Linked DNA regions of Homo sapiens. The protein of the gene in region 2 purifies or fractionates together with the protein of the main gene of each other region. This does not show direct contact. Each region holds a gene or a part of one and is shown on either strand. Other genes may lie near its edges.

Region 1 (3,659 bases), on a different chromosome or scaffold from region 2:
CTGTTTATCACTTTAGTATCCCAGGTCCCCTGAGAGGGAGGTCACAGGGTTTGGAGTTTTGTTGACAAAGAAGTTCAGGATTAAATGACCATAATACAGTTTGATTCTGCAATAAAGTCAGAATTACAACCAGATACCCTCTTCCCACCCAGCTAACAGTTGTCTGCCATAGAGCTATGTGTTTACATAGAGAATATATGGGAATTTCTATATTAAACTCAAACGTGAACCAGACTTTACAGTGGACCTAAGGCACTCTCTGGACCGTCAACTGACCTCTGAGGGAGGCCACATATTTGAAAAAAAATCAGTTTTTCCAAATCACTGAGATACCTTTGCACATGAAGCAAAATTACAGTCTGTCACAGAGTTGCATGTTTACTAAACATGCCCATGGGAAAATATGTTGAATGGACTGATTCTTAGAATTCTTTGGTGTTGGAAGGGACCTTAGAGATATTCTAACCCTATAATCCTGTAAGTTTAATGAATGTGTTATACTTTAAAAAAAAAAGTTTACAGAAGAAACTTTAATAAGCCCAAGAATCACCTAGGAAGCTTACTTTTTTTTTTTTTTTTTTTTTTTTTTGAGACGGAATCTCGCTCTTTCGCCCAGGCCAGGCTGCTGTGGCGTGATCTCGGCTCACTGCAAGCTCCACCTCCCTGGTTCACGCCATTCTCCTGCCTCAGCTTCCTGAATAGCTGGGACTACAGGCACCCGCCACCACGCCCGGATAATTTTTTGTATTTTTAGTAGGGGCAGGGTTTCACCGTGTTAGCCAGGATGGTCTTGATCTCCTGACCTCGTGATCTGCCGGCCTTGGCCTCCCAAAGTGCTGGGATTACAGGCGTGAGCCACCACGCCTGGCCGGAAGCTTACTTTTAAAAACATTCTGAGGCTGGACACTATGGCTCACTCCTGTAATCCTAGCACTTTGGGAAGTGGAGGAGGGAGGATCACTTGAGCCCAGAAGTTCGAGACTAGCCTGGGCAACATGATGAAACCCCATCTCTACAAAAAAAAAAAATACAAAAATTAACTGGGCATGATGGTGAGCACCTGTGGTCCCAGTTACTGGGGAGGCTGAGGTGAAAGGATTGCTTGAGCCCGGGAGGTTGAGGCTGCACTGAGCTCTGACTGTGCCACTACACTCCGGCCTGGGTGATAGAGTGAGACCCTGTCTCAAAACAAAAAAATAAAATTTCTGAGATCATCCCCAAAAATGCTGATTCAGTAAGACTATGTTGGGGCCCAGGAATGTGTATTTTTATAAGAAACCCCACCGCCAACCCTAGGTGATTTTGAAACAAATGGTCTGAGGACTAGGCTTTGAGAAACAGTCTAGTTTCCCATTGTTTTTCATTGTTGTTTGTTTGTTTGTTTGTTTGTTTGTTTTTGAGACAGTCTCGCTCTGTTGCCCAGGCTGGAGGTGCCGTGGCGCGATCTCGACTCACGGCAACCTCCGCCTCCCAGGTTCAAGCCATTCTCCTACCTCAGCCCCTCAAGTAGCTGGGACTACAGATGCCCACCACCATGCCCAGCTAATTTTTGTTATTATCAGTAGAGATGGGGTTTCACCATGTTGGCCAGGATGATCTCCATCTCTTGACCTCGTGATCCACCTGCCTCGTCCTCCCAAAGTGCTGGGATTAGAGGCGTGAGCCACTGCTACTGGCCTTCTCATTGTCTTATAGCTGTATAAACAAAGGCCTAGAGGGATGATATGAATTGCCCATGATCAAGTGGATAGTTAGGAACAGAAAGGTAGAGATAGAACCCAAATATTTTTTTCTCACTTACGAGGCACTGTTTATTCTATCACACCATCTTGAACATGATACATAAATGTCAGTTTGATTCCATATTTTGAGTTTCAGCCCAGGGCTTGTGGACTAGTAAGAGCTCTTGAGCTCCATCTGTCAGTCAAATTCTGCAGTATATGTAAAGGACCAGCACAGAGGCATTTATCATGAGGATTGATCCAGTTGTTATGAATTTGGGGGTTTCTTTATAACACTTAACAGGACTCAACCCTATCAGGAATTTCAGTACTCAATTACTCTTTTCAATTTTACTATAGTTACAGAAAGTCAAGACTCATAAACACTTCCCTGAATCAAGCAGCAGCACTGTTTCCCAGAGAATATGACTTTCTCTCTGTTGTACATTTCAGGATCGTTCTCCAGGGCAGGGTATGATCTAGGTAATCACATGGGAAAATTGTCTCCAAGGATAAGAACCTGTATCAATGTTGTAACTAATAAAAGCCACATGGCTGGGCCAGTAGTTTTTCACCCAACTTTCCAAATACAGAATATGGGTAAAACAGTAAAACATATTTTATTTCACACAATATGGGATATTTTATAAAAACCTACAAAAGAGGCCTGAAATTGTACATTTGTTCCATTTCCATTTATCCTAGCATCAAGACCATCAATAAACTAGCTCTTCCACTGGGTAGATAACCCAGGTCTCCTGAGGGTCCCTTCATCAGCTCACTGGCAGGGTATACACTGCCTAACTCAACACAGCCATGCGAGGCTCCCACAGTGTAGGCACTACTCTTATGCAAGGCTTTAGTAACAGTTAAAGATACTCTCTGTTGCAAAACTGAGTCCCAGGTAAGTTATAAAACGTTCCAGATTACCTTTGACCTGGTTTTGCAAGGTTGCAGAAAACAAAATTTGACCTCCTTTAAACAATGTGATAAAGGAAAAATGCTTACAATAGCTTTCAAAAATATTGCATCATTAAAAGCTATAAGACTGAAGAACTTCATTACAAAACAAGTGTTGGGACCAAGGATAACCCTTGTCATCCAAACTTTTGAGATTAGATTGAGAAAAACTGATGGTACAACAATTTGATTTTCAAAGCAAGAAACATTTAGAGGGAGGAGAGGCCACCAAAAAAAAAAAAAAAAGGAGAGAGAGTCCCAACAAGGTACAAGCTAGTTTTCTCTGTGCCATGATGGGATGGAGAAATAAGATGAATTAGTTCAAGGATCTTACAGTCCAGTAAAAGAACTAAACCGCATGCACAAATGATTGTGACACCCAGTAGAATGTGCTCAGTGTGCTGGGAGGGCTACAAGTGCTGCAGGAAAACAAGCAGAGGTCAAGAGAAGGCTTTTTGGGGCACTGACTATTGAGCTGAACAAATGCAGTGGGGGAGGGGGCATTCCAGGCAAAAGGAGCACCAGAGGCAGTTCTGATCAGGTGCTTAAAACAGTGAGATGCTTCATTAAAGGATATTGCGATGTAAGAACAATGGCAGTCTGGACCTAATAATAGTCATTTTTTTAAGCTGTTTCCTGAAGGGACAGGAAATGGAAAAAATAGGGACTCAGAGAGTCCAAAGAATGGCCAACAGCAGTGGCCTCACTTCCACAGAAGGAAATATTTAATTTTCTAATGCCAACTTTAGTCCAGAATCAAGGCACAGAAATAATCTAATCTACACTCTTCCCAACTCTTTGGACTGCCCAAGGAGTAACTTAAATGAGTTGTTTCAATGCACTTTGTCTCAAAGGCTTAGAATTCTCTCATATATCTTTGAATAATTCCCTAGTAATGTCTAGCACATAGTAGGCAGGCAGTCAATAAGTGTCTGTTGGGCAGGGCACGGTGGCTCATGCCTGTAATCCCAACACTTT
Region 2 (3,659 bases):
GGACCAGGGAAATTAGCACTTTCATTTACCAGCTGTGGAGACGAGTTAGGCATAACCACTGTTATGCTGCTAGTATGTATCAGAACAAGGAACAGAGCCTGGGCCTCCCATTTTTCAGTTGATTTCTCTTTTTTACTGACAAAATCCACCATTGCTTGAAAACCATTCTAAACTCAGCCTGCTGCTTAAGACCTCTACTCTCTGAACCTAACTCATCTTTCCAGCATAAAATCTGGATAGCCAGGTAACCCTTCTGATTTAGCCAGACCTTTCTACTCCCTGTCTCATGCTGTCTCCGTGCCTCCCTTTGTGTGCCTTCTGTCCCCTCTCAGTATTTGCATCTGTTAATTCACAGTGGTACTTTTCCTTCCACACCTTCCCAAGTAAGTAAGTAAGCTTTCAGTAGTCATTGCTGTTAGTAAACTGCCAAGAACAATAGATAAAGACTAAAGGAGAGGCCTTTATATACTGTGCAGTGTACTGTGCTTTATTGCCAATTAAATTGCCATGTGCTATGCATATCATGGATTAGTAAATATCTGTTCAATAATTATAATTATGAAAAACTGCTGTTTACTGAATACCTGGTCTTACTACTATGAGGTATACTTTCAAAGAACTAAATCTTGGGTGAAGATATGTGTTCAGGGTCACACAGCTAGGAAAGAATGGAGCTGAGATTTCAGCCTAGGCCTGACTTCAGTATAACCACTGTACTGTATTTCCTCTCTTTCAGATTATAAAATGGAGAATTCCATAGTGTATTTTTACAAATTGAATGTTGAATTAGAATTCTTATTTAAGTAGAATGTTCTCTCTGAATTAGGGCCTGATTAACCGTTTTTTCCTTGATTCCTTATATTAATATAAGATTTGATGATTATGCTATTTTTATACTGAGTTTTTCTGTCTTAAATATATTTACTCACTACTAGTATATAAAGAAATAAGCTTATGTCAGGAATGGCACCTTTTAGGAATTAGTCATATTGTTGTATTATATCCGCTGGCCACCGTCTGCTGCCACAGTGATTCTCAGCCTTGGCTGCATGTTAGAATCACCTGGGACAGGGACTCTCAAACTTAAGCATGTCCCCGCATCACTAATTGCCGAGCCTCCCTCCAGAGTTTCTAGTCCAGTAGGTCCAGGATTCCTAATATGTTCCCAGGTGATGCTGGTGCTCTGGTGCATTGCCACACTCTGAGAAGCTTTACCCTAGGGAACTTTTGAAAATCTTGGTCAGGCCATACCCTAGATGAGTTAAAGCAGAATCTCCAAGTGTGAGACTCTGGGCAGCTTTTAAAGTTCCCCAGGTGATTCCAGTGAACAGCCAAGAAAAACTTGATCTTTGATTGGAAGTTCAGTTATTCCCTCTTTAGTTTATAAGGGAAATGTATGTGGTTTTTTTCTGCCCCTACTCACTCTTAATCTTTTCCCAACATTTGACCACCCACTTTTTATTGAAATTCCATTTCTATAGCTCCTGTGTCACCTCACTGTCGTCTCTGACCTCTTCAGTCACTCGTCTCTCACCTTTCATTGGCTTTTTTCTTTCTTCCTTTTTTATACTGTCCCGAATATGGACTTTTTCTAAGGTGTAGGCCCTGATCCTTTGTTCTCATTATATTCATTTTCCTAGTGAACTTATGTGTTCTTTACACCTTTAAGTTGCAACTCTGCCTGTAGGAGCAAAGCCTCGACTTCCCTTCTGATAACTGATGTCACATCTCCAACTTTGTTCAGGCATTCTCTGCTTGCACGCTCTACAGTTGTCCCTTGGTATACATGGGGGATGGTTGCAAGACATTCCCCCATACTGAAATCCACACATACTCAATTTAGCAGTCAGCTCTGTGGAACCTGTGTGTATGAAAAGTCAGCTCTGCATATTGTGCAGGTTTTGCATCTTGAGGACACTGTATTTTCAGTCCAAGTTTGGTTAGAAAAAATCCACCTATGAGTGGACCCACACATTCAAACCTGTGTTCAAGGGTCAGCTGTACTCTCTAACCCTGAATTCTGTATGTCCTCAGTGATTTATGGTCACACTTATCTAATCATAAAAGTCACCTGGTATATGCTGGGTAAACAATAGCTTTCCAGGCTCTACCCTGGAAATTATGATTCAGTAGATCTGAGATGAGATTTGGAAATCTGTATTTTTAACAAGCTCCCTGAGTGATTCTTATGTTCCAGCAAGGTTGGAAACACTGTACCATCTGAACTCATTGTAGCCTTTTATGCACTTTCTTTTTTAGTTTTCCTGTCAACGGGACCAATATCACTGATGGGGAAATGAGGCAACTTGAAAGCTAGGAGTCAAGTTCAACTGCTTTCTCCTTTATCCTCACACTGGATTATTTTGCTTTCACCTTGAGAGTCTTCCTCAGCTTCATCCTTTTCCATGCCTGAGGGCCCTCCTCCTCTTGCATCTTGATAACTGAGGTGCAGTTTGGAATAGTGGTTAAATGCTCAAGCTCTGGAGCTCTGCCGTGTTCTAGTTGGAGATCTTAAGATCTTAGGCAAGTAGCTTAACTTCTCTGTGCCTTAGTTTCCTCATCTGAAAAAATGGGGATACTATTAGTACCTATCACCTAAGTTATTATATGAAATTATACACAGAAAATGCTTAGAGTAATGCCTGGCCACCGTGAGTGGTAATAAACTGTTATTACATATTAATTAACTATTACTGAGATAGATTCTTAAGTTCTTTTCAACTTCTTTTCCCTATACACTAGTCTCCCCTTATCCTTGGGGGTTGCATTCCAAGGCCCCCAATGCCTAAAACCGAGGATAGTACTGAACCCTATTTATAATATGCACAAATTTCCTTTTCCTTCTTCACAGTTTCATGGATAGATTTGTTCTTAGAGATCCTAAGCAACCTCAGCATACATTTTTGTTTGTTTTTCTTATGAAGTCAAGAACTTTTACCTTTTCATGTAAAGAAAGCACTTAATGGCGGCTCCTTGGCATATCCAAATTGCCAGCATCACTACTCTTGTGCTTTGGGGTCATTATTAAGTAAAATAAGGGTGACATGAACACAAGCCCTGTGAGATATCCCGATGGTCGATCTGATAGCCAAGATGGCTACTAAGTAACTAATGGGCAGGCAGCACATACAGTGTGGATATGTTGAACAAAAGAATGATTCACATCCTGGGTGAGACGGTGCAAGATTTCATCGTGCTGCTCAGAAAGGCATGCAATTTAAAACATGAATTGTTTATTTCTAGAATTTTCTATTTAGTACTTTTATACCAAGGTTGACCATGGGTAACTGAAACCATGGATAAAGAGGGACTACACTAATACATTATGCATTTCGCCACCAGAGTAATCTTCCTAAGATACTGTTTCAGTATGTTGTCTCCCCTCCTTGAGCATCTTCATGATTCCAAATAACTTCCCAGATTAAGTCTAATTCTTCAGCACGGCATTCAGAGCCCTTAATCTCAGTCCTTTATACCTGCAGTATTTACCTCATGCTGTTCACCCACTTTGTGCCACAACCAGAGTACTTTATTGTCTACAGTATTCGCCATGTACATGATTCCCTTCCTGCCTTTGCTGATACTTTCCCCTTATTTGAATGTCTGTCTTTTTGTTTGCATATCTCATTCCTATCAATCATTTAAAACTCATTTTATCG

What was found.
Region 1: the proteins of SAAL1 (region 2) and SLC27A2 purify together in Homo sapiens (co-immunoprecipitation; 3 studies listed by BioGRID and IntAct, with this or other methods). This does not show direct contact.

The regions. Positions count from the first base shown.
Region 1 is NC_000015.10:50,185,059-50,188,717, forward strand, and holds part of SLC27A2 (long-chain fatty acid transport protein 2), read left to right. Parts: intron 1-3,659. UniProt on the Homo sapiens protein: Mediates the import of long-chain fatty acids (LCFA) into the cell by facilitating their transport across cell membranes, playing an important role in hepatic fatty acid uptake.
Region 2 is NC_000011.10:18,092,566-18,096,224, reverse strand, and holds part of SAAL1 (protein SAAL1), read left to right. Parts: intron 1-3,659. UniProt on the Homo sapiens protein: Plays a role in promoting the proliferation of synovial fibroblasts in response to pro-inflammatory stimuli.